Homo sapiens: one gene and its partner. The main gene of each other region encodes a partner of the protein of the gene in region 2 in a complex. Each region holds a gene or a part of one and is shown on either strand. Other genes may lie near its edges.

The links.
Region 1: the proteins of DLC1 (region 2) and TNS2 are in contact, whole or in part, in an NMR structure (PDB 2LOZ), measured with the Homo sapiens proteins. Residues at the interface, in NP_001335010.1 of Homo sapiens: Glu811, Asp812, His813, Lys814, Pro815, Gly816, Thr817, Phe818, Pro819, Ala821, Leu822, Thr823, Asn824; in NP_736610.2 of Homo sapiens: Asp1268, Leu1269, Leu1270, Arg1271, Gln1272, Gly1273, Ala1274, Ala1275, Cys1276, Lys1317, Ser1319, Ala1320, Gln1321, Thr1324, Leu1387, Asp1388, Pro1389, Asp1390, Gln1391, Val1403, Leu1404, Leu1405, Gly1406.

The regions. Positions count from the first base shown.
Region 1 is NC_000012.12:53,040,908-53,053,169, forward strand, and holds the start of TNS2 (tensin-2), read left to right. Parts: upstream 1-9,157; 5' UTR 9,158-9,278; coding exon 9,279-9,353; intron 9,354-10,947; coding exon 10,948-11,056; intron 11,057-11,547; coding exon 11,548-11,585; intron 11,586-12,262. UniProt on the Homo sapiens protein: Tyrosine-protein phosphatase which regulates cell motility, proliferation and muscle-response to insulin. Phosphatase activity is mediated by binding to phosphatidylinositol-3,4,5-triphosphate (PtdIns(3,4,5)P3) via the SH2 domain.
Region 2 is NC_000008.11:13,493,351-13,508,518, reverse strand, and holds part of DLC1 (rho GTPase-activating protein 7), read left to right. Parts: intron 1-8,322; 5' UTR 8,323-8,447; coding exon 8,448-9,470; intron 9,471-15,168. UniProt on the Homo sapiens protein: Functions as a GTPase-activating protein for the small GTPases RHOA, RHOB, RHOC and CDC42, terminating their downstream signaling.

The DNA of each region.
Region 1 (12,262 bases), on a different chromosome or scaffold from region 2:
AGTGATGAGTCATTTTGCACCAGGTAATAGGGGAAAATTGTGTGACCTCCAGCAAACACATGAATGGTTATTTCCTGGAGCCGGAAGCACTTGGGGGTCGTGGTAATTCCCAGTGTTTTCTGTGTCCTAGTTTTACCCTTTCTAAACACTGTCCTTTTTGAAAGTTTTGAATATATCCACATTCTATTGAAACCTTGAAACTAAAAATTTAGACTCTTATCATCATCTTAAGTTCTTCATGCTACTCTTAACCTCCCAAAAAGCAGTATCTAAGTCACATACATGATGTCTTGGGCATTTTCTCAGCCATGGAGAACTCTGAAAGGAAGAATCGCTGCTTTTCTCAAGCAAATCGGTTTCTTGATGTCTTTTGGTTCTCCTTGCCTGCTCCTGATGCTTGGACCCCTTTTATTGATCAGAGTGCTCTAGAATAATGGATGGTCTTGGATGATGGATAAATAGGGACAGGGACAGTTAAATTGGGAGCCTTTCTTACAACCTTGATGGGATTTTTCCCCCCAAGTTTCCTTCTCCACTGAAATGCCACACTAATGCTTGTTGGATTCATGAGGTGGCCAGACCAATGTGTTGTTTTGTTGTTGTTTTTTTAAGCTTCCCTTGAGAGAATAAATGGTAATGGAGAGAACTATTTAACAAGGTCCTGGTTTCTCTTGCAACACAGTAGCTAAACTTGCCTGCTTTTATATGCATTTTTGTAGGGATCAGCTTGGTAGACAGTATTAGCGGAGAAACACCTTGATCTTGGTTTGCAAGCCCTTCTCCCATCAGTCCTAGATTAGGCCCTGTTCAGCCATGCAGGGGTGTTGGTTTATGCGTGCTGCAGCAGTGGGCATAATGAATATAATTTACCCAGTGGACAAAGGTGTGTACCAAGTGAATTTAAATAATTGGTGTGGATTGGCCAGTAGCTAAGAAGTGGGCTTTTAAAGAGTATTGAAGATTGAAAGGGTTTTTCTTTCTTTTTTAAAAAAGAAAAACAAACTATTGATTGTAGATAATGAAAAGCTAGGGTTTGCCCTCTTCATGTCTACTCTCCTTCCAAATAGTTATATCCAAAACTGTTTTTCCCTCTCCCCTACCTTGTCCCCCCTATTAAAATAGAAACAGGGATTGATTAATGTCCCGCTCCTGAATACATGTAAAATTTGTACAAAAATATCTTCTATGAAAATGATTTGTAATCTGTAGACTTATTACCTGGGAGATGTCTTGATGTAAAATCCCATCCTTTGGGTTGTGGGTTTTTTGTTTTCTCCAAATAAATCTGATCTTTAAAGTTCATTGTAATGCTGAAGTTCTTTGACAAATACTCTGCACTCCCAGTGGTTTTTACTGTAGTCATTGACCACCTGCTCCTCCTCCTCCTACCATCTCTGAAGTTTTCATTCAGTATTGGATACCATATTGTCCAAGATTAGAGGGTGGGGTTACAAGGGAATCTATTTCAGTGTTTATTGAGGCCCAATAATAGAGTTTGCATCCTAGCTCCCCTCTGGCTTTTTTTTTTTTTTTTTTTTTTTTTTTTGCCTGGTGTTAAATTTTTTAATCACCTGGATGTGCCTGCAGTCTATTTCCTGTACTGTTTATTTTAATCAAGATGTGGGAACTCTAAGAATGAATCCTTGTGTCCTTGGGGCAGTTCCCTCATAATCTCCCTCCCTCACTTCAGCAATCTGGAGAGATGCTGCTCCCTTGAGTTACACCGCACTGGTGGACCAGAGATACTGGTGACAGGCTGGTCGAGGTTACCAGAACAGAGGCTCACAGACTCAGTGGGAATTTTCCAAACAGCTAGGGACAGACTGGTCATTGTTGCAAGGCGGGAAAGGGGTTAGGACAGTGGCAGAGAATCCTTAAGGTCACAAGGAGGTGGAGCATAGAAAGGAGCCCGGGAAACCTCAGTCAACAATTTTGGGGATTTAAGAGCCAAGATGAGGAGCCAGTTAAATGATTTCCCAGCCAATTGGAGCAGCTGCTCTTCTAGTTTCTGGCCAGTGCATTTATCTCTGTTCTCCAAAACTGGTAAAGTTGAAGGCTATGAGACTCAGCTGTGATGATGTGAAGGCTTTTCAATGTGGGTTTAGGTGCCCCTATTGTCCAGGCTGCCTGGAAACCTACAAGGTAATGCTTTTTCACTGCCTCTCCACCACAGGAATCAGTTTCACTCACATTCTCCAAGCCTTTGTTTCAAGCCACTCTCAGCTGTGCAATAATGAGGTCTAGGTAAATGATGGAAAGAAGGAACATAAAAATAGGAAAGGCTTGTTGAAAGAGGTTTATGATGGCTGTGTACAGAAAGGGTAGAGAGGAAGGCCCTATGTCCCAAAAGGTACTCTAAAGTCAGAGAAAACCTGGGCTGTAATATGGCCACATCCTCATTTAAATTTAAAAAGACGTGTGTGGCCAGGTGCCATGGCTCACAGCTGTAATCCCAGCACTTTGGGAGGCCAAGGCGGGCACATCATGTGGTCAGGAGTTCTAGACCAGCCTGGCTAATAGGGTGAAACCCCGTCTCTACTAAAAATACAAAAATTAGCTAGGCATGGTGGTGTACACCTGTAGTCCCAGCTACTCAGGAGGCTGAGGCAGAAGAATCGCTTGAACCCGGGAAGTGGAGGTTGCAGTGGACCGGGATCGCACCACTGCACTCCGGCCTGGGTGACAGAGCGAGACTCTTGTCTCAATGGTTGCTCACACCTGTAATCCCAGCACTTTGGGAGGATGAGGCAGGAGAATCGCTTGAGCCTAGAAGTTTGAGACTAGTCAGGGCAACATGGCAAGACCCTGTCTCTACAAAAAAATAGAAAAATTATCCAGGTATGGTGGTGTATGCCCATAGTTGCAGCTACTTGGGAGGAAGGATCACTTGAACCCAGGAGGTCAAGGCTGCAGTGAGCTGTGATCACACCACTACACTCCAGCCTGGGCAACAGAGCAAGACCCTGTCTCAAAAAAAAAGTGTGGGTCCACCGAGAAGCCCCCCAGCTGCAGGAGTGGACCCAGGACTGGTCAGCCCTCATTGTCAACGTCTTGTAAATCTTGAACTAGTGGACGAGTAGGGGGAAAGTGCAGGTGCAGCAACCTACTTCAAAAGGGCTAACTTGAGGCTGATTAGGTCCCGTGTGTCTCCCAGTCCACATTAGCCTCGTTTCTTCTCAATAGAATCAAGCACTATACTCCGGATCCCAAGGCACTAGGGTCCCAGTTCGTGCTGAGGGCGTCGCCTCAAGTGCTAAGCGAGCTCACAGCATCTGGTTTCTCAGGAAGTGAGAGAGCTACACATCTGCTCCTGGGAAGCATTATTTGTCAAATAAGCCTTGTTTCTCAGCAACCATTGTAGCCCCCAGGGCCACAAGTAAAGGGGGGCTTGCCTTCCCTTACCCTCCCCCAAAAGAAATTTGGAAGAGACGAGCTGAGCTGCTCCCCGCCCAGCTACAGCAACCTCCAGCTTGGACAATACACCCTCTGTCCTCAGCCAGGAGATCCGCCTCTGGAGTTGGCTCTGCCCCTTCCCCCACTCTTCCTGGTTCCCAGCACCCAAACCCTCTACTGGAGTTCTCCTGACCCAGTGGTCTCCAGCCAGGACAGTCCCACACCTTCAAATCCTCCCCCTACAGTCCCCGCACCCCAAGGATCTGAGCACATTCAGTTACAGGCATGGGGTCACCCCAGACCATGGAAGAGGGGGTTCCATCTTCAGTGCCAAGATGGACCACCCTCTGCATAGTCAAGGTAAGAAAACCTGTGTGGAGGGAGGTCAGAGGTGCTCCTGAAATTGTTTGACCTTTACTAACATCAACCTGGCTTTCTCCTCCTCTCCTTCTTCCTCTCTGAAGCTCCTGCTGCTGTGAGCTGGAAATCAGGATGCCTGGCTGGCCCATGAACCACTCATTTTTGTTTCACTCCCACCAAGCTACCTCCTGTATAACTTCTCATTCTCAGCTTTTCTCAGCCCTTCCTGCAGCCCCCTTCTCCACTATCCCCACATTGAGAGTAGGAATCAAGCCTGAGCTGGGAGTTTGGCCACCCATCTTGTGACCCTTTTCCAATTCCTTGGAACCTCTAAAGTTCTTCCCATGGGCCTGCCAGGCAGCAGCAAAACCAGCATGTGTGAGGTTCTAGCCCTTACCCCTCACCTCTCTGGGGTCCAATCAAGTTCCTCTTTGAGTCCCAGTCTCTCCATTGGTAACTTTAGAGCTTAAGTAAAGGTACTCCCATGGCATCCATCCCAGAGCCCAGCCAAAGACCCTAAGGAATGCTGGGAAGAGCAAGATGTTAAAAGAGCTGGTTGAAGGCTCCAGAGACATGAACACACTTAATTATCTCATGATTCTCGATTACATAATCAAATCTGGCCAAAATACATGGGACAACCTTCAGCCTTGCCCTTTCTCCAGGAGCCTCCAATCCCTGCCACTTTCCTCGGTATTCCCCTAACTCTTGCCTCTCCCCTCCTCCCAGTGCCTCCCTACTCATTCCCGCCTGGCTTCCCCCACCCCCACCTCTCCTGTCCCCAGTCCCCAGTGACTCCCACTGCTCTAACCTCTGAAACTGTCTATTGGACACCAACTCAACCAAGAGCAGTAAGATCAAGGCTCCCCAGTCCCAACCATATCCACCCCTCCCAAATGCCAATTTCTGGGTGGGGGGGGACACACAGTCATCACGCACTTCTTCACAGACTCTTCTTCCCTGTGGCAAGATTGGAATCAGGTGCTCCACCCCCTGGAAATGAGAACCAGACTTCTCAGCCTTTGCCAAAGACAAGGGACCCAGTTGAGATGAGACGGGGAGGGAAAGAAGGCCTTAGAGCCAGTGGTACTGGCTACTTTGGGCAAGCACTGGGCATTGAGCCCTGGGCACTGGGTTCTCAGAATTCCAACCTTCCTTCCCCCCGCCCCTTTTCATCATGGAAAATCCAGCAGGGAGGGTGAAGGAGGGAGAAAGTTTCAGGAAGTGCTCACTGCTAAAGGACGTTGGGGGAATGTAGGAATGGCAACAGGTTCAGAACTTCTAGGAAGATGTCCCCTACCTTATCCCTACCCTCCACCTTCTGCTCCAGGGTGGCACGACTCAAACCTGCCCTACGGCCCATTAGCTCCATTCCATGAAGTTCCTATCCAGTACCAGGCACTGCAAAAGAAGGGAATGAGGTCAGACCATAGAAAGAACTTCCATCTCCATTTGGAAAGGCTGGACTCAAGTTAAATGTAAGGAAGACCTTCTCAGAGGTCTCCTGCGAACTGGGAATGACGGTCCAGCTCTTTAAAATAGGGCAATGGGCCGGGCACGGTGGCTCACGTCTGTAATCCCAGCACTTTGGGAGGCCAAGAAGGGGAAATCGCTTGAGCTCAAGAATTGGAGACCAGCCTGGGCAACATGGCGAAAACCCATCTCTACAAAAAATTAGCTGGGCGTGGCGGCGCCCATCTTGTAGTCCCAGCTACTCGGGAGGCTGAGGTGGGAGGATCGCTTGAGCCTGGGAGGCAGAGGTTGCAGTGAGCCGAGATGGCGCCACTGCACTCCAGCCTGGGCGACAGAGACAGACTCCCGTCTCAATGAATAAAGCAGGGCAGTGGATGGGATGGCTGGAGCTGCTTGCGGGTGGAGATGGGGGCTTGAGCCTGACGGAAAGGTCCCCAGCTGTGAATCCTTTGAGAATACTAGCCCAGGAGAAGTCTCCTGTGGGGCAGAGGACCAGGGAAGGGTGTCCAATGACTTGGGCCAAAAGTAACACCAGGTGTCTTCACCTGATTCAGGCGCCCGCCTGGGTAGGGGACGCTAGCACCACCAGGCTAAGCCACGGGTGGTCCTCTCAGGTCAGGCCCAAGCCCAGGCACACTCCTGTGGGGAGGGTAAGAGGCTGACGCTGCGCGGCAGTTCCCTGTCCCCTTGTTCCTAGTCCCTTCTAGACCTACGCCCACCGTTTCTTCTGCGTCTGTCTGGCTCGCGTGTTTCTTTCTGCCTGTGTCCCGCCGGGTCAGGCTCTCCCCGTCTCTCAGACTTTCCCGTCCCCGTGTCCTCCGCGGCCGTCTCTCTCCAACTCTCTCCCCCTCTCAGCCACTTCCTGTCTCCAGTATGTCCCTGGCGCGGCCCGGCTGGCCGTCTGCGCACCCTCTCTCCCCTCGGCTCTTTGTGAGTGTGGGTTCGCGGGAGAAGGTGGGGAGGAGAGGAGGCCGAGGGGTGGGGAGCTGGCGGAACGTGGGGATTGGAGCCGGGAGGGAGGAGGAGGAGGAGCGGGCTGCCACGGGCGCGGGCGCGGGCGCGGGGCGCGGCGGGGGCGGGAGGGAGCCCAGCCGAGCCCGGCCGCCCGCTCCCGCCACTGCCACCGCCTCCTCCTCCGCGTCCGCTCGGCGCGGGCACGGGCGGGATGGGCTGGCCCGGCGGCTCCCCCTGCTGCTGCCCCGCCCCGCCGCGCCCCCGCCCGGCCGGGCGCCCCCCGCAGGTGAGTGGCCGCGCCGCGCTGGGCGGGCGGCGGTCTCTGCGTCACGGCCGCGCGGGCAGTGCCAGGGGCGGGCGCCAGGGGGCGCGGGGCCGCCGGAGGTCGAGAGGGCGCGGGGCGCGGGGCGCGGCCCAGGGCTGGGGCCGGGGGCTCTGGCTGGCCGCGGAGAGCTGGGAGCAGCGGGAGGCCGGGACAGTGACTAGGGGGCGGGGCGCGGCCGCGGCCCTACTCGATCAGGCCGCCACGCCTTCCAGCACCCGGGGCGCACGGGGCCGCACGCCGTGCCACACACGCAGGCCCGGGACCCGGCAGCAGCTGGCAGCGGCGCTCGGGCCCCGGCCTGGCAGGGTGCGGGCGAACGTTTTCCTTTCCTGCTTCACATGTGGGACAGAGGCCGTAAGCGGGCACAGATGAGGCTGATTCGACTCGCCAGCCCCGCTCTGCGGCCCCCTCCAGTCTGCCCCCATCCTCCAGACCCTTCTGGGAACACCCCCAGAGCCGCCGCCCTCCCTCGCTCCTTCCCTGGGCCTTACCCCTCCTCCGCGGCGGCCGGGCTCCCAGCCTCCCTTCCAACCACAGCTATTTCCAGAAAGGGGGGTGTGGGTGGAGGGGTTTCTCCAAACAAACCCAAGACTTCGGAGAGAGAGGGGGCCCGGCTGGGGGAGAGGTTGACAGGCTCTGGAATGTTACAGGCGGGAGGAGGGTGAGGGTCCAAGAGGGTCTAGTGATGCCTTCCCAGCCCTCCTCAAGTGAGCTACTTTTCCCCTCGGGACTGGCTCATAGGGATCCCATCCCTGCTTCCCTTCCGAGGTGCGAGTGCCACAGGATGGGAGGGACTCACAGCCACAGTGGATCCTGACCACCCCACCCCTCACCGAGCTCACTGCTTGGGCACCTCCTTGCTGGGTCTGGGTGGGGAGTGTGAGACCAGTGAAGGTGAGAGGATGTCTGGGGACCTGTTCCAGGTGAGGGGACTTTCAGCCCCTATGGAGGCAGCAGGAGAGTGAAGCATGTAGAGGAGTCCTGGTCAGGGCCATGTGCCATAGGAGCAGAAGCTGGGACTGGACAGAAAAAAGCCACCCCCACTGCCCACCTTGTCACACTGCCCCATCTCCCCCAAGCAGGGCTGGGGGCTCGACAAGGCCAGGCCCGGTTGCCCACACTGGCCGGGGGCCTGGAATGTGCTGGGACACAGCCAGGCTGGCAGGATGGGGGTGGGTCACAGAGCCCGTGCTCCTCTCCAGTTACAGGCAGGGAGCCCAGGCCTGCCACACAGATGCCACCTTCTGGCCAGGATATCCTGGGGACACATTTCTTGGCCTGGAAAATTGGAGCTTCCAGGGAGAGGTGTCAGGCTAGGCCCAATCCAGTCAGGTCCTCGCAAGGGTCTCAAGTGGGCACCCACAGCAGGCCTCACCCCAGAGAATGCAGGATTCTTCATCCCAGGGAACCCATCCTGGTGGATATGAAGGAGCAGGAAGCAAGTAGAAGGGACTCCGTGGGAGAAGCCAGGGCTGGGGGAGTTGCCTGAGTACTGGGACATTCAATAAATACCATGCAAATGAGAGGGGCACATTTGCACATTCTTTCAAGTGACAGCTATAGCCTGTCCCAGGGGCTGCTGTCCACAGCTTGGGGCTGAAGACTCCCAGGCCATTAACCCCTTAGCTTTTAGGAAGATTACTCCCCCTTTTTCAAGGCCCCATCCACCTCCCTCCCTTGACTCCCAGGACGGGAAGTTGGCCATGTTCCCAGGAGGGAGGCCGGAGGCCCATGGATGGGGGTGGAGTATGTGTTGGGAGGGGGGACCTCCTGTCCAGTCCTCAGGCCCTGGGACAGCTGCTGAGGAAGGAGAGCAGACCCAGGAGAGCCATGAAGGTAGTACTCAGGCTTCGGGGTTGCCGCGGGGGGAGGGTGCAGCCCTTGGGTAGAGAGCCCAAGTTGCAGGGCTGGAAAGAGGGCTAGGGATCTGTGAGATCATGTCTGAAACAAAGCCAGGGAATGGGTGAGTGGGGGGCACTGTGTCAGGAGCAGAAACCTGGGGGCTTTCAGGAGAAGGGCCTCATATGCCTTAGGCTGTGGCAGGAGAATGGATTACTCCCCAAACCTGAGCAAAGCAGTCTTGTGGCTGGAACTTGGCCTTGCAAGGTGTATTGAGGGTAAAGGTGGGCGGTGCATGCTTTCCTTTTCCTACTTCATAACGAGTGAAACTGAGACAGGAAGGGGGCCCCCAGTCCCATTTTTACCTGACTCTCAGGACACACTCGGGATCCTGGGCCTGCCTGCTGGTAGTAGTTCCCAGCTCCACTCCCTCCCCAGCGGAAGTCCCTCGAGAGCTTGAGAGTTCAGGCTGGAGCCTGGCTGGGACACACTGTTCCCCACTTGCCCTTTAGCCCTGCCCCGAGACCAGAATTCTCACCCGGCCCCACCGGGGGTGGGGGCAGAATCTCAAGACCATGGATCCCTGCAGATCCCTGGAGAGTGTGGTGTCCCAGGTGTGGGACAACTCCAGAGTTGGGGGAGTAGGGGGAGCAAAAGATCACAGGCTGACACTCCCAGCAGGGTAGATCCTGGGAATCTGATCTCCTGGCCTCCCCCACATCCTCCCCCCTCCACTTCCTGGAGCAGCGACCTGCCCCCTTCCCGCCTGCACTTCCCTCCACTTCCAGGGCCGGGCTTCTCCTCACACCAGCCAGACAGCCTACCCTCCGCCCAGGGGAAGCGGCTGCCTCCGCCAGGCCGCTTCCAGGAAGCCCCGGGCCAGGCCCCAGCATTGTTCAGGCCCTGGGGCCAGCACCCCAGCCAGCCGAACACCATGAAGTCCAGCGGCCCTGTGGAGAGGCTGCTCAGAGCCCTGGGGAGGAGGGACAGCAGCCGGGCCGCAAGCAGGGTAGGAGTGCCCACCAGCTGGGCAAAAGAGGGGCAGGGGTGGAGGTGCGGGCAGTGGGGGAGGGGACCAGGAATCAGGCCAGGCCTTCTTCCCAATTTCAGCTTCCTCAGCCTTCTTCCCTGGCCCAGCATCCCCTCCGGAGTGGCCAGGGCTGTAGTGTGAGGGGATGTTTGGGTTAGAGTAGGTCCTGCTGTCTGTTTTGGCTCCTCTCACCTTCCCTGCTCTAGCCTGGGCCAACCCCAGGAGGTCCTGGCCCCCCAACATAAGCCCCAGGTGCCTCACTGCAGGACTTTGCCATGCGCTATCCAGGTATCCTCCAGCAGGCTCAGAGATCATCAGGCCCCTTCCCTGGCCCAGGGAAGTTTGAGGGAAATGGGGTGGCAGGGTGGAAAAAGAGAGAGGAGAGGGAGTCAGGAGTGCTTTGGAACTGGAGGTTTGCTTTCCACTGACAACATCCATATCTGCTGCTAATGCCAACATGCTCCCAAGTGTCTTAGTGGGTCCCACAAAGTTGATCCAGCCCAGAAGAGTTGCAGGGACAGTCAAGAAACCAGAGGTGCTGCCCACATCCCCATCACTCCCTTTCCCAACTTCCCAGCCTTGCCCCAAAAGCAGCAGCTCAGGACAACCTGAGATACTACTGTGATGGGTCCCCGGGAGGAGGACAGCAGGAGTCTGAACTCCAGAGGAGGGGGAATATGGGTAAAACAGAGAGATGGCAAGGAGACAAGCTGTCCCCAGACAGAGGATGGGAGGAGAGAACCCACAGTGGGAGGGGAAGGGACTGAGATAGGCCTGGGCCATAAGGGGGCATCCCAGGCTCCTGCCTCACTGCATCTCTGGGTCAGGAGGGGCTGAACAGGGAATCTGGTCCACTCCTTTCTCATTCAATGCGTGAATCCCAAGTGCCAGGGTGCAGGGGGTCGGGGGAGAACTCACAGCATCCAAAGCCAGCTAAACATCTCTCCCCAGTGACAGGCTTCTATCTGTTTCCCTCCAGCATGACCACCCCCATTACACAATTGCTGTCTGCTGCCTCAGTGCACAATGAGTAAACATGTTGTTCTGACCGTGGGGGAGGAGGGCATGTCAGCTGCCTGGAGCGTGGGGACAGCAGGAGCTAAAGGAGCAGGACTGGCTGAGGCCACTCCTGCCGGCTCAGTCTGGTGCTGCAGGACTGACATACAACACATATGTTTGGAACCTCCCTGCTCACTCTGCACACAGGTCTCCATGCGGGGAGGACAAGATGGGAAGAGTCAGGGAGTACCCTTACCACACCAGGGGGAAAGCCTGAGCATGGAGGCTTTTCCACAAGGGCATCACACACCAGGGCCATGTGAGGGGCCCAAGTGATCCCCTGGGGAGGAGCTGACCCAGCAAAGGTGACGCAAGGGGTCAGATTCCATGCACAGTTGAGGACAGGCCCCATGACCGCCCTGAAGCAGCTGTGGCCAAGTGCGTCCTACAAGTTTGAGGGCTTGATCTGGACGGAGAAAACCAGTGCAGTGCTAAGGCAAGGCTCCTGCCCAGTCCCGGAGATGGAGATGGGCCCACTGGGAACTCACACCTCTGTTTGTCCCTCCACCTTCAGCCTAGGAAAGCTGAGCCTCATAGCTTCCGGGAGAAGGTTTTCCGGAAGAAACCTCCAGTCTGTGCAGTATGTAAGGTGACCATCGATGGGACAGGCGTTTCGTGCAGAGGTGAGGCTCTCTGTCCTGTGACTCTGAGACCCTCCACCCAGTACCACTGTGTTGCACAACTCCAGCAGGCCAGCTCACACAATCTCAAATGTAATATGCTGCTCCTGGATTAGGCACAATGGCAGCTAAGAAGCAGCTGCCTCCCCCTTCAGATGGCCCTGGCTCCCCATGACAGACACCTCCCATAACCCAGGAGAGCCAGTACTCTCCATCACCTTCCCATCCTGACTTGTGACGGTAGTCTTCCTTCCCTCTCTTCCTCCTCACCTCCACCCACCCTGGAACGTTACCCCTGGCCTGGGCAGTAGTACCCCACTGCCACACTCTTCCCTCAAAACCTAGCCCTGCTCCTCTGCCCCAGCCAGCCCAGTCCAGGTGGGATCTTGGAAGTCCCAGGGTCTGGTTCCAGGGTCTGGGAGATGAGGGAAGGCCATTCCTTCCACTGTCCCACAGGCCCCTGCTAACCCCTCTCCTCCCCTTACCTTCCCTAGTCTGCAAGGTGGCGACGCACAGAAAATGTGAAGCAAAGGTGGGTATCTGATTCTACCTGATAGGGGGAGAGGGTCTGGAGTCCCTTCCTCCTCCCAAACAGGCTTCTGCAACCACACTGGCATCAACCCTCCACCTCCACCCCTCTCACCACTGGGGAACCCCTCCTGGGTGGGAGGGGTGCTGTACTGGGCCCTTTAAGAACCACCCTACTCCGCCTTCTGGAGGGCTGGCCAGCCCAGGCGGGTGGACAGCAAGACAGCGTTTGTCTTGGTGCTGTGCCCAGACTGCAGCTGGCGAGAGGATGGGGGTGGGGAAGAGGAGGAGAATGAGGAGGAGGAAGGGTGGGGTGGGTGGGGAGTGGGGGAGCAGGATTTCAGAGACTGGGCAGCCGGATGGGCTGTGCCTTCCCTCTGGGGAAGGGTCCTCAAAATGCCTGGGCGGGTCTTGTCCTGGGCCCTGGAAAAACTGGGCCTTTCCAGGTATAAGCTGTGGATAGCACCCACTGTCCACTGGGGACCTGAGACAGCCCTGTCTCTGAAGAGGTCCCCTGGTCCTCTTCCTTCAGGACAGGGGGAGGAGGATCCCAGGGCCCTGGAGCTGGCTTGGGGGAGCTGTGTGCCCAGGGGCGGGGTCTCCCGGTGAAAGAAGCCAGTGTCCATCCCTGGCCATGGCCTGCCTGCTTGGCTCTATATATAACTCCTGCCCTACAGCTGG
Region 2 (15,168 bases):
ATGAACTCGGGAGGCAGAGCTTGCAGTGAGCCCAGATCGCGCCACTGCACTCCAGCCTGGGCGACAGAGCGAGACTCCGTCTCAAAAAAAAAAAAGAAAAAGAAGTTACTACATCCATAAAGCAATATTGTCCCACATGGCTCTGTTAATTCTGGGATCTCCTAGAAACCAATATCCCCAGAAAGATCTCAGTGATATCAGGAGAATATCATAAAATATTCCCAGTTTCCTCAAATTACATGCGGGTTGCTTAAGAAAATGTTAAGAGAATCTCCAAATCTGGCTGGCTTGAGCCATAAAGTGGGTGGTAAGTCAAACACTGCCAGTATCTGCTCTCCTCTCTGCAAGAAAATTAGACACTACTGGAAGCGACATTAAATAGCAGCAACCTGGACGTAAAAATAGAGCACCGCTGAAATAATAGCTTGCAGTTTTGCAACACCCTGCTCTTTTCTCATGAGCTGACTTCTAGTGGATTGAAAGAGTTAACTTTCAAATTTGCCTGAATCACTGAGGGCTAAGAATAAAAAAAATGTTTTAAGTTGAGTAAAAACTCAGATATACCTAAAAATGGGTTAACAATAAAATAATATTTTTCAGCTGGGTACCTATTTCTTCATTTTTCTTCTAAAGACTAAACCTGATGGAACGTTGGATGTGTATTTTGGAAAAAGTGAAACACTACTTATTCCCCTTACTTGGCTCATTATAGATGACTTATTCTTTAATTTGGTAAAGTTTTTGATGCTTTCCAGACAGCCTAAAGACATGGAAGCTACTTCATATATAATATTTTAATCTCCATTAAGCAATTTGCCAATAAAACTTTTAACAGGGATTCATGTTTTCCACTAACATGTAATGAGGTATAACAAGTACATTCCAGCATTAAACAAAGTATGTAAAAGTAGAGGAATAATGATTTTGTGTGGGATTAAGACACATATTGCTACTAAAGAAAGGGAATCTGCATGAAATCATATGGAGGTAAATTCTTGCATCATGTTATTAAATGTTTATCCACCCACAGTCTAATTCTAGTCTTGTCTAATTTAGATTAGATAACATGAATATTTTAAAGGAAAAACACTAATTGTTTTTTACTGAAAGTTGGCTGTCTGGACTAGACTCATAGAAATGCTTTTTAGAAATGTGCTCTTACGGTTTTTGCTATTTGTTTGTGTATTTACATAAAGGAATTAAGAAACATAATATCTTCCCTGGGCTTTCTGGCTTCTAAGCATATGTCAAGTCAGTTTGGTCGTAAAGAGCATTCCTCTTCATTTATCACTGAGCTGTGTGCCAGTGGGAAGGCGCCCAAATGTACACAATTTAGTTTGCTAGGTAATTTGTTCTTTGACATTATCATTAAGAAAATGGGTTTCATTTTGGCTTCCACAAATGCTCTTTGTAATGAAGATTTACTTTGACATGAGTTGAAGAACTATATTAAGTTGTGCTCCTGTGATCATGTCTGTTTCCAGGTTGTTGATCGTCTTTTCTAGTTGCCTAATTCAATTCAGTAAGTGTTTTGGGGGCACATACGATGTACAAGTGTGAGTCCCCAAGAGTAGGCTAAGATACAGTAAGATTTCATATCATTACCAGATATTCAGGTTTCCAACATATGCATCTTACTAAGGTGACCCTCACCACGTAGCAACAAAATGTGCCAAATGTAGAGGTGTCTTCTTCTTCGTTCATATGCTGAGAGAGCATTTTAGAAACTGTTAAGTTGCGTTTAATTAACATGAGATTATTTCCCTTACATCTTCTCTTCCTTCCCACAGTGACTAAGCACATGCTATGCGATAGCTGTTTTATGTAAGTGTGTGTGTATATTTATATACATACATATGCACACATATATATTTGGGTGCATGTGTCTCTCTGTGTGTATATATATGTGTATATATATATATATATATATATATATACACACACACACACATGTGTGTGTGTGTGTGTGTGTGTCCATGTGTGTGTATGTGTATAAAGCAGTAGGTGGAGAACACGACCTAGAAATTTAACATGGGATGGCTAATCAGGATGAAAAACTCTAAGGGAAACCAGAAGTAATTCTAGCTATCTAAGGAAGAAGTAAGAAAAGAAAAGTAAAATGGCAGTACTGTTATGTCTTTATTTTCCCTTCCATTAAATATTCAGGATATTTAATAGAATATCCTAGAGTCAATCATGTGTTCATTTATTTATATCAATATATATGTGTACACACACACACACTCTCACAACCCAGAAGTCAATAGCGTGTTCATTTATATATATGTGTGTGTTTACATATACATATTTATGTGTGCATGTATTTGTATACATATGTGTATATATGTGTGTGTATACACACATATATATATCACATGTATTCTCAAAGGACTGCTTTATGTATACACACACATATATGTATCACATGTATTCTCAAAGGACTGCTTTATATATACACACACACATATATGTATCACATGTATTCTCAAAGGACAAAATAAGATACCTGCATTTGATGGGATGAATACAAAAGTTGCCATCTTTCCAAGTACTGTGAGTGAGGGATTCAGGAAAAGTGGGAATTTGAGTGAGAATTCCCCATTTATGTGCATGTACTAATGTAATGCTATTTATATGTTATTTTATGTATCTTAAACTTCTATTCAGATAACATTTTAGGAAAACTATGGCTTAGACAATTCCTAAGAATACCTGTTCCAAATTTCAGGAATTCCCCAGGAGAGTTAGGGAAGGAAAGGAAACTGAAAGAACTGACCTAAGAATCTCATAGAAATTGTGCTGACATTGGTGACATAAGATAAATATCCAAACTGGCACCTTTTCTTTGCTACGTACATGAGACTGGTGTTTGTGTAATTGCGAGGGGATGCTGTGGTGAGGGGGAATGGGGCAAAAAGAATGGTTTGGCCCCACCAGACATATTGCAGAAGAACTGCAGTCGTGTTTATGCATCAGCTTAACCTTAAAATTACTGCTGTAGAACATTTTAAAATTTAAATTATTTTTAGCATGAATTCTGAAATCCAGAGATAAGACTTTCTTAGCAAATGGCACACAATATCATAATACTTTAAATTATTTTTAGCTATGTCTTCTGATATTTAACTCTGTATTTCTAAACAATATGATTGTACTATGATTTTTTTTTCTATTTTAAACATTATCTGTTAACTTCCTGCTACAGAAAGTGACTATCTCCCTTAAATTATTTTCCCTGCTCTCCCTAATCTCACTCCTCACAGAATCCTATGCACTGAAAATCATTGCTTCATATGTTTTGGTTAATTTAATGTTTACTATTTGCATTATTTTGACTACATGAAAAAAATTAGCCACAGCTTATGGAGTATACTATAATTATATTTTCCTTCTTGTAAAACTATTTTTCCTGTGGTTGATAATTGATATCCCTAGTGTTCTCTATAACTATTAATAATTCTTCCATCCAAATTGCTTGACTTTATTATAAAATTCCTCTCAATATGTCATATATAATTTATTATTTCCCTTTTTTTAGAGACATCTCCCAGAGACAACTTTAGGAGTTATGTGAAATGATTGACCACTGGACTTGCTACACAACTTTTATCCTGAAAATTCTATACCTTCCTCACTTGTGCTGAATTCTTGGCTTCCTTTTGCCATGTCTTTCCCACTGTGTTTATTTTTTAATTTGGGGTTAGCTATCTCTCCAGTAGCTTTTGAGAAGAGGTTAAAAAAAAAGTAAGACTTTTCATATAATTTTAAGGCAGACATAATTTCCCATCCAAATTTTGAAGTCGTATTTGCCTGTCGTCTTCCCTGCACTGTTACTTTTGACAAATCTGATACCATTGATTCCCAGCTCCTAATATATCATCTCTTTTTCTCTTTCTCCGATTACATTTAGAACCATTTGCTTACCTCCTATGTTCTGAAAATTCACAACGACATTTCTTACGTGGTCTATTGTTCTTTCTGGTACCATTGCATCCTCATGAGTTCCCTTCAATCGGAAGACTTGAATCATTTGTTCTGGAACACATGCTAAAATTGTTTTCTTTGAAAAATTTCTTCTCTTAATGTTCTCTGAAGGCCGGGCGCGGTGGCTCACGCCTGTGATCCCAACAGTTTGGGAGGCCGAGGCAGGCGGATCACCTGAGGTCAGGAGTTTGAGATCAGCCTCACCAACATGAAGAAAACTGTCTCTAGGAAAAATAAAAAATTATCCTGGCATTGTGGCACATGCCTGTAATCCCAGCTACTCGGGAGGCTGAGGCAGGAGAATCACTTGAACCCAGGAGGCAGAGGTTGCAGTGAGCTGAGATGGCGCCATTGCACTCCAGCCTGGGCAACAAGAGTGAAACTCTGTCTTAAAAAAAAAAAAAAAAAAAAAATTCTCTGAAATGTTTCTGATAAATGTTACCCTCCAAGGTAACTAGTGAGTTTTCGAGTTGCAAGCAATTCTCTGGAATTTATTGTTACCTCTGCTATCTTTTCCAAAGAGGTAATTCTAGAATAGTAGAAATCTGAAGCCAGAAAGAAAGGAAGATTTCTTCTATCCAGTAGGAAACTGTACCTCAAATACCATTTGACTTGAACGTTCTGGAGGCAGAAAACTTACCACAGATAGATAGATATTTACCACAGATAGATATCTATGATAGAACTTTCTTTGTAACTATTATCCTTGTCTACAGGAGTTTCTCCCACAAAATTGGTAAGCTTCAGTAGCAAAGGTAGACTATACAATTCAGGTTTATATTCCTAATGTTTAGACAAGTTTCTGCCACTCACTGGGTACTAAATAAATGCTTGATGAATAGTGATTATGAACTAACTACTGTCAGTTCTACAGACTGAACACTTGATTTCAGCCAGTGGTACTTCATCTGCACCTTGCTCTCTCAGGCTGTAGAATCAGCAGTAGTAATTATTATCAAGCTCTTCTTTTCTAAGAACAATTGGCAGGCCAAATTATAAGGTGGTCTTCTATTTCAGAGACAAGTGCAAAAATAGAGCATGATCATTTGATATCAAATATAGATCAGTGATTTTCAAACTAGAATGTCTCCAATTGTTAAATACGGTAACATTTAATTTGTTTAATTTATTATTATTTTTTTTTGCTCTATCACCCAGGCAAGAGTGCAGTGGTGCGATCATGGCTCACTGCAGTCTTGACCTCCTGGGCTCAAGCAATCCTCCCACCTCAGCCTCCCAAGTTGCTGGGTCTACAGGTGCACGCCACCACTCCTGGCTAATTTTTGCATTTTTTGTAGAAACATCATCTCTCTATGTTACCCAGGCTGGTCTGAAACTCCTGGCTCAAGTGATCCGCACACCTCAGCCTCCCAAAGTGCTGGGATTACAGGCGTGAGCCATCATGCCCAGTAATTTTGTTCAACTTTAATGTATATATTGTATGCTATAAAACTCTTACGTTAAGGCATGGTAAGTGTTACAAAATTAACCCAAACAATGAATTCAAAATCATGCACGAATATCACAAATTTGGAAATTTCAAAAGTATTTTCCAGAATCATAGCATCATTAGAAGTACATACAGTCTCTTGTGATGTTAATGTCACGGTGCTTGAACACATGAATTTAAGAAGTGAAAAATCCCCATGGAAATTCACTTCATAAAACCAACATCCTGAAATGACCTACAATTTTCCAGATCCTCCATCCAAATCCTCAGCAACTGAGCTCATTCTGAATGAAACTGCATGAATAGGATTACAAAAGAAATGTAATAGAAATCTGAAAAATAAGTAGTCAGTTTTTTGAAATGTAATTTTAAATAAGGCGGCCCAGTGAGGAGGCTCACAGGAGAAGTCAGTCTTTTACAAAGATTTCTCTCTATTAGGGGATAGATTATAATCAATTCAGATGATTTAGGAAATGAGACCTATAAACTCAGATGTGATTGACAATAATCTAATGCTCCTATTTATTAATAATCTGGTCTTTAAATCATAGAGACAGATTTAACTATAAATCTTACAAATCAAAATTTAAATAGAAACTGGATAGGAGAGCTTGCAGACATTCATTTTTTTAAAAAAACTATCAGACCACATGACATGGAATGAATGAAGATGCCAAATGTAATAATGATCGTTATGAAAATTGAGAAATTGCATATCTTAAAAATAAAAGTGTACACTTACAGAAATGATTTGGAAATGTTGAAAGCACCTAGATTAGAAATGAAAGCAAGAAGAGTTAATGCTTTATTGGATTTATCTTATTTATAGTCTCTCTTTCCAGTTAGATTGTCTCAGAACTTGTTGAACTATCTTCCTTTGATTTGACAGAAATACTTACCTACTTGTCAAGGTTGAGTGACAGAAATTAATGAATATTATTGTCAAGTCTTAAAGGCAAAATTTTTGTGTAATTCTTTTTGCCTAAAAAGTTAATAAAACTATATTTCTTCTTAGTAAAAGAAATGAAACCAGAATTCAGGCTCAACTTAAAATATAAATGTGGCTTAGGAGTGACATCGTAATACCACTTGGTATTTCTTAAGTGAGCCGGCTCTTTCTACACTGGATAAAAATAAAGAGAGAAAAGTATCTAAAACCCTATTACCTCCCAAATGTGCCCATGAAAGCAGAAATTTTCTGGCTTGCATCTATGTGTTCTTTCCACTTTCCGTAGCCTCCCACGTTATAATGACTTATGCATGGAATTCAGAGATTTTATATTTTCTTTTGAGTGCAGAGTGAACGTCAACATGGAAAATGTGAAGGCTGACCACTTTTCAAGATGGCCACAGACCTCTGAGGGAACCAAATAGTATCCAGAAAGATACTTGGTCAGGCTGGGATACTAAAATTCTAGCACATGTCAATTTCGCCAGTTTTTACAGACTGGAAATATTTACCTCTCAGGCATGTGCTTAGTCAGAACAGCTCGAAATTTTTGTTGGGGAGTCAAGGCCCTTTACAATAGAATAGACTAAAGAGATCGAAAATCAGTATAGCAGTTAATCTTGTTTATAGCAGAAATCAGTAACTCAACCCATGTTGTGTGCTGACAGTTCTCGTGTGAAGTAAAAACTAAAAGTGTCTGCTCTGTGAATGGGATTTTTCTTTTACAGTCCAATAATATAGTTTCATTGTGGGGCAAAATTTGGGTTAGTCATTTTTATAACGTTGAGTTGACACTGGTATTATTTCTTTCCTTTAACTAAGGGTTTGAAGAATTCAAGGCAAAAATTTGGGTACCTGGTATGTGTTTGTATTCTAAGCTTGTCTTATGCATGATTTTCTTGTTTACTTAAATTTTATGGCCATATTCTAACAGAAATATGCAAACTAAACTTCTTATAAGCCAAACAGAATGAGACTGAAGTTTCTGAAGAATAGTCCCAATTGTCTTATAGTCATATCTTCCTTTATGTTCACTTGAATTCTTGCATAAAATATTTAGAGTTTACACATACTAAAGTTATGTGGGAAGAAGGGATGAAGGTAGAATCTCATAATTCCATGGAGACAATGAAGTTTGTTGACTATCTCAGTCTGGGCCTTAGAAGCAGGACCAAGTTTGAATCTCGGCTCACTTGCTACATGTATAACTTTAGTAAATTATTTAATTTCCCTTAAGCTTCAAAAATACCAGCTTGCAAGCTAGTAGTAGCAGTAGTAGGATGCATGTACAGATGTATCTGTCCTAATTGTAAATGGTATGTGTTATGCTTTCTAATCCATGCATTCTGTGTTAATATGTGCTAAACTGGATTATTCCATGTTTCTTAGTCATTCCCTGGAGTAACTACATACTGGTCGTTTGGGTTCGGTGTTAGCTCCTTCACACACTAATACATTACACATGCTGTCTCTATAGCTCAAGTTTTGCATGAACAGTTCCCTGGTGGCTTTCGCTGTGATTCAAACCAAACAGTGAATAGATTTATTTAACAACTTGTGTTCACAAAAGTAAATCAGGAAAACATGCAAGCCAGAACAATGTTTCTTCCAGTGATTTTTATTAAGTATTGCATTTCACATATTTTCTTAATGGAGTTTTAAATGTTCAGTATTTGTATCTTTATTCATTAATGGACCAATCCAACTGCCTTTAAATGCCTTTAAAAGTATTGCTGATGATTTTTATCAGAAATATTCAATGTTAAATTTCCTTCTAGTATTAGGCTTCTTAAAGAAATGACATTATTAAAGCTACTAAACAGAAGCTTTATAAAATCTCTTAACTTTGATAGCATAGATTAAGTTTTCTCTTTTCTAAGATATATTTTGACTTTAGAAACGTATCTGCGACTACATATTTTTTTGAATTTTTTAATAGGTGGTGAAATGACAGAACTCATTCGCTTCTTTGATTGGTGATTTTGAAATAATCTTTCATCAAGTTCCATCTCCTTTACCCTCATATGGAATATATCTCTCTGTCTGTTGTTAAACTACGATGACATGTCTGTAGCTATCAGAAAGAGAAGCTGGGAAGAACATGTGACCCACTGGATGGGACAGCCTTTTAATTCTGATGATCGTAACACAGCATGTCATCATGGACTAGTAGCTGACAGCTTGCAGGCAAGTATGGAAAAAGATGCAACTCTAAATGTGGACCGCAAAGAGAAGTGTGTTTCACTACCTGACTGCTGTCATGGATCAGAGCTGAGAGATTTTCCTGGGAGGCCAATGGGTCATCTTTCAAAGGATGTGGACGAAAATGACAGCCATGAAGGTGAAGATCAGTTTCTTTCTCTGGAAGCCAGCACAGAAACACTAGTGCATGTTTCTGATGAGGATAACAATGCTGATTTATGCCTTACAGATGATAAACAGGTTTTAAATACCCAAGGGCAGAAAACATCAGGCCAACATATGATCCAAGGAGCAGGCTCCTTAGAAAAGGCACTGCCCATCATACAAAGTAACCAAGTTTCTTCTAACTCCTGGGGAATAGCTGGTGAAACTGAATTAGCACTGGTAAAAGAAAGTGGGGAGAGAAAAGTTACTGACTCTATAAGTAAAAGCCTGGAGCTTTGCAATGAAATAAGCTTAAGTGAAATAAAAGATGCACCCAAAGTAAATGCAGTGGATACTTTGAACGTGAAAGATATTGCACCTGAGAAACAATTGCTTAACTCTGCTGTAATTGCTCAGCAACGAAGGAAACCTGACCCCCCTAAAGATGAAAATGAAAGAAGCACCTGCAATGTAGTACAAAATGAGTTCTTGGATACTCCTTGCACAAACAGAGGACTGCCATTATTAAAAACAGATTTTGGAAGCTGCCTTCTGCAGCCTCCTTCCTGCCCCAATGGAATGTCAGCTGAAAATGGCCTGGAGAAGAGTGGTTTTTCACAACATCAAAACAAAAGTCCACCAAAGGTCAAGGCAGAAGATGGCATGCAGTGTTTACAATTAAAGGAGACCCTGGCCACCCAGGAACCCACAGATAACCAAGTCAGACTTCGTAAGAGAAAGGTAAGACATATGCACAGATTCTCTGGCTTTTGAAATTTTGTAAATATCCTTGGATTTATCAGTTATCATTTTGCTTGGATTAAAAAGATATGAAGATGGTTCTTTTGCCCTGTTATGCAGATGTGTAATTCAACGACTACCCACTTGGTCAAACCATCAAAATATGTAAAAATTAAAGAATAATAATCTATCCGTTTCACTAATAATGTGTATAATGGTTTATGAATATTCTATTTCAGAATTGTGTTGAAAACAGGATTGGTATCCCTTTCTTTAGTTGGAATTAAATAGCCACTAGATAGCTCATAGACATGCAATTCAAGGCATTCTGTAGAGTGATTTCTAATTCTTATAAAGAAAGTCATGGTACTGTTATAGCATTTATTTGGGCATATTTCTTTTTCTCTTCAAAAAGACTATGTTTTCATAAGAAAAAAAGGTGGTATAAATCACATATTTAAAATAATCCCCTCACATATACAAAGGCTAAACTACTCCCACCCCCAAAATGTGCTGGTGCCATTTTAAGTGATACCCTGGCACACTCACCATCAATATATATATCATAGTCTCTGTTTCTTGCCACAACTGTTACTTAACTGTCAACCAGAAAAGGCTAATAACCACAATTATGTTTTATGCTACAGCCCCTTTGACTAATTCTAAAGATGCCATCCTCCCCTGCGAAGCTTTCAAGTGAGAGAAGCAAGGGCTAAGATGGTGCTACCTGAATTATGGTTTAGCAAGTGAACCCTTGACCAAAACCTGTCTTTTCTATAGAATTTCCCCACATTTTTCCAAAAACTGTAGTGAGTTATAGTCCTGATATAAGTCCAAGCACAGTTTCTTCTTCTATAAACCCCACATGGCCAATGGCATGGAAGAAACCCTGCATTTTTGACACTGGTATGCACTGATTAAAACATATATCCTTGCCCCTCTCTTGATACATTCATCCATAACTGCAATTCTCCTAAACACAAAAGTAATGTTCTTTGTTCTGTTCAACTGGGGCTATCTACCATGAGAGAGAAAAAAAAATCTACTACTTTCTTTGTAGTGAAGAAATCTGGTTTTCATAGACTGTGGTTTTGCTTACAAACTAGATCAGTAATGTGTCGTGAGTTAGTTTAAATGAAGTCAAAGACTTTACAGCAAAAATCAGTGTCCACAAGCTATATGCTAACAGAGCATTTTGTGCTTCTGGCAGACTCTCACTTCCTTACATAAGTTTTATGAAAATGTTAATGCTCCATAAAGTTGTTATGATTAAACTGTTTAGATCACTTTTTCAAAAACTTTCATATATCCTATCAAATCTGTTTGAGGGAATGCTGTAATGACATAAGACAGTATTAACTGACCTATGGCATAGCTCCCCTAAAATAAAACAAACTCCACCCAACTGCCAATGGAAACATTAAACATTCCAGAAACATATACTCACCACTTGAACATTTATATCAATACTAAGAATGCTGGAAAGAATTTACTCTTGGACATGTCACTATAGCATGGTTGCCTTTTGAGAGTTATAATTATATCTCATTTACAAGTTCTAACTTAAATTTTCTATTTTAAGCATTCTGTCATTCTAAAGTGTTGTGACATTGCCTGATGGAATATTTACTTTAACTCTACAACCCATTTAGGATGCCTTCTAATAAATAGATTAAATGAAAACTTTTAGGTTGGGAATTTATCCTAGAAAACTACAATTATGTGAGAAGCCCTTAGAACTAAAACGTGTAAGAATTTTTGTTTTATGCATTATTGGATGAGTGTTAAAATACCATTGAATTGGCAATTCGCCATTTTTAGAAATTTACCAGAAGAAACAATAGAGCATATTCATAGAAAGATATGTACAGAGGTGTTCATCACTATATTGCATGTTACTGAAAGAAAAATGAAACAGTCTACATTTGCATCAATAAAGAATTTGTTTAGGCCAGGCGCGGTGTCTCATGCCTGTAATCCCAGCACTTTGGGAGGCCGAGGCAGGCGTATCACGAGGTCAGGAGATCGAGACCATCCCGGCTAACATGGTGAAACCCTGTCTCTACTAAAAATACAAAAAATTAGCCAGGCATGGTGGCAGGCGCCTATAGTCCCAGCTACTCGGGAGGCTGAGGCAGGAGAATGGCATGAACCCGGGAGGCGGAGCTTGCAGTGAGCCGAGATTGCACCACTGCACTCCAGCCTGGGTGACACAGCGAAACTCCATCTCAAAAAAAAAAAAAAAAAAAAAAAAAAAAAAAAGGAAATGGTCTAAGAATTTGTTAATTATTTATCTATTGTATGGAATGCTGTGCTTTCATTAAAAACATGGAGTCAGATCCAAGCACACTAACTTTTAAAGAGGCTCATAATATAGTACTGAAAAACAACAGTAGCAGACCAATATGTATAGACAGCCAAATCTTAATGTCAAAATGTGTGTGTGTAGGTATGTGTGTGTGTGTGTGTGTATATATATATGAATGTAGATAGTAATATAAACCTCTCTGTATGGCTGAATAATATGTGAAATCCTGGCTAAATAGGCACAAAATTGTTAACAGCAATTACATTGGATGAGTGGAATTAAAAGAACAGGAGGGGTTTTCACTTTTTACCCCATATAATCTTTATAAAAGATCACAGAATTATGTATGAAATGCATACACTGAACAGAAACACAAAAATAAAATAATATTTAGTATATAAGCTGAGGCATTTTCTGCATGGCACAAAACAACCTTTTATCTGCATTATTATTATGATTCTGCTTTTATAAATTATGAACAAATATTTATAAAGTTTTTCACACTATTAACAAGAGTTCTAATCTAGTTGATGTCTAATACTAGTGCAACTGGTTTAGAAGAGATAAGTTTTTTGGAGGCACACATGTGCCACATTTTCATGTCTGTAGGGAATGCAGTGGCAAATGGTCAAGTGGTAGAAAGAGTTTGCTAATTGTCTATATATTTAAAACTGTTTGTCAGCCATAGTAATACCCGTAAGATAAGAACTTGGAAAAGTGAAATCAATTAAGGCTAATATCATTTTAGTTATGGAATTGTAATCAGCTCATTATCTGATAATCATGTGATTGAATCAAATCCTTCAATAAATTTGTGCACATTGATTTCTTTTGTCAAGATCACATCAAAGTTCTAAGACCTGAAGAAAAAAATAAAAGAGCTTATAAGGGGGATCTTCAAAATGTATTGAAATAGTGCTCTAGAGATATCATTGTACTTTTAATAAAAATTATCCTTCCTTGAAGCCCATAAATCTTAGCAGGCATTCATCGTTTTGCAAAGCTTAGTTTTCTTAGTTTCCGATGATATTTCAGACTACCAGGGTTTAGTCACACGTATATTTATTAGGAGTCTCAATTGGAGGGGATTACATTTGTAGTATATGTACAAGTATATACCTTTATTTTTAGTATATATGTAGTATATAGGGGATCACAAATATTGACCTTTTAAGCCAATAATTCCTCTAAATAGGATGAAATATATAATGAAATTGAAGCCACTGATATCAAAGGAAAACCAAACAAATTGTGAGCAAATGTTAGTGAATGTGCCATAAGGTTGGGTGACATATGACCAGCACTCAGGGCCTGGCTGGTCTCTGGGGTGAGGCGGCTGGTTAAAAGCAATTCTGAGACAAATTCCAAAGTAGTCTGGAGGAGGGAGACAGTCTAAGAAGTGGTCTCTTTAAACCAGATGAGATGTGAAGATGGAAAACATTTAGGGAAAGACTTGAGGTTAGACATTTTTTCTTAAAGAAGTGGGTTACTAATTAGAGAGAGTACAAAATTCAGTCTTCTGTAAAGACTACTTAAATAGTTCTGAATTTTTTGAATAACCATAATAATTATATAAATGTCTGAACATATGTTTATTTGCTCACATAAGACAAGAAATAATCCATATTACAAAGCAAAATAAACTCCAAAAAAGATGCAAAGATAATCTGAACTTTAAGAAGACACCTAATTCTACATTCCAACAAAAACCTTATATTCCAAAAACAAATTAAATGAATGTTAGGGTCTTAGTTTATCCCTCAGGTTTGTGTGTGTTTGTTTATTTCTTTGAGATGGAGTCTTGCTTCCTTACCCAGGCTGGAGTGCAGGGGTGTGATCTCCGCCCATTGCAACTTCCGCCTCCTGGGTTCAAACAATTCTCCTGCCTCAGCCTCCTTAGTAGCTGAGATTACAGGAGTGCACCCTCACATCTGGCTAATTTTTATATTTTTAGTAGACATGGGGTTTCGCCATGTTGGCCAGCCTGGTCTCAAACTCCTGACCTCAAGTGATCCACCTGCCTCAGCCTCCCAAAGTGTTGGGATTACAGGTGTGAGCCACTGTGCCCGGCCTATATCTCAGTATTAATTAGGCTATAGATTTGGCTGCTATCTCAGAAAGCATAATAGTGGTTCAAATGACATATTTCTCTCACACGCATAAAATAGGGATAAGAAGTTCTGAACTAATATATAGGCTCTATGCCTTCAGAATCCACACCCCTTTTATCTACCCTCTCTGCTCTCGAGTCCTCCTCTACATTCAAGTCAGTGGGAAGGCAAAAGGCTACAGGGGTGATCGCACCCTGTGTACAGGCAGTACCCAGGTCGTCGGCTTCACTGCAATTTCATGGGCTAGAATTTAGTTGCATGGGCATATCTAGCAATAAAGGAACTGACCATTGGAATCTGCATTCTGGACAAGCATATGTTTGCTAAAAGTTCTATTATCAAAGACGTAAGGGACAATTTATATTGAGAGATAACTCATAACATAAATATTGAGGAATACACTCTAACATAAATATATTCCAATATATCATGACACGTTGTGAAAGAAATAACCAAGCTGCATATATGTTCTGTGGTATTCTGTATAAACACTAGGTGCTTTAATTTCATGCAACAGAATACCTTTCCTCATTATGAAACTATTTGATATATTAAGTGATGTTTATCAGATGCTATATCATTTCTCATAGAAAAACTGTCCAGGAATAAAACATTATATTGTACATACTGTACTTTACATCTCTGGAAAACATAATACATTGTCTATGACTGATAAAAATCAAATATTTTCTCCTTATTCTATATTTAAAATATGCAAACATTTGGTAAAAGGACTCCCATACCTGAAATGATACTCTCTTTCCTTTCTATCCCCTGAATGCTGATGGGGGAGACTTGTAACAAGGGGAGGATAACATTGACCAATGGGTGACATAAAGAAGATAGTAAATTGTGCAGAAAATGGAATGAACCAAAGTAGGAGGCTGACTGGGACAATATAAAAGGAAAGGAACTATTTAAAGAAAATAAGTTCTAGAAAATAAGTTTACAATGTAAAGAGGTATAGAATATATTGTAATTATATTTAACAGTATAACAAGTATTGTAACTATAGTTAACAATAATACATAGTTTCAAATAGCTAGAAGAAGGATATTGAACGTTCTCAGCACATATGTTCTCAGACATGATCAATGTTTGGAACGATGGCTCTTCTAATTACCCAGATCTGATCACTAAACATTGTATGTATCAAAACATCATCTATGTGCCCCATAAGATTATAAACAATGTTTATGTATCAACTGAAAAATTTTTAATTAAAAAGATAAATTAAAACAAGAAATGAAAACCTAAAAGATAGTTAAGCCAAGCCTCC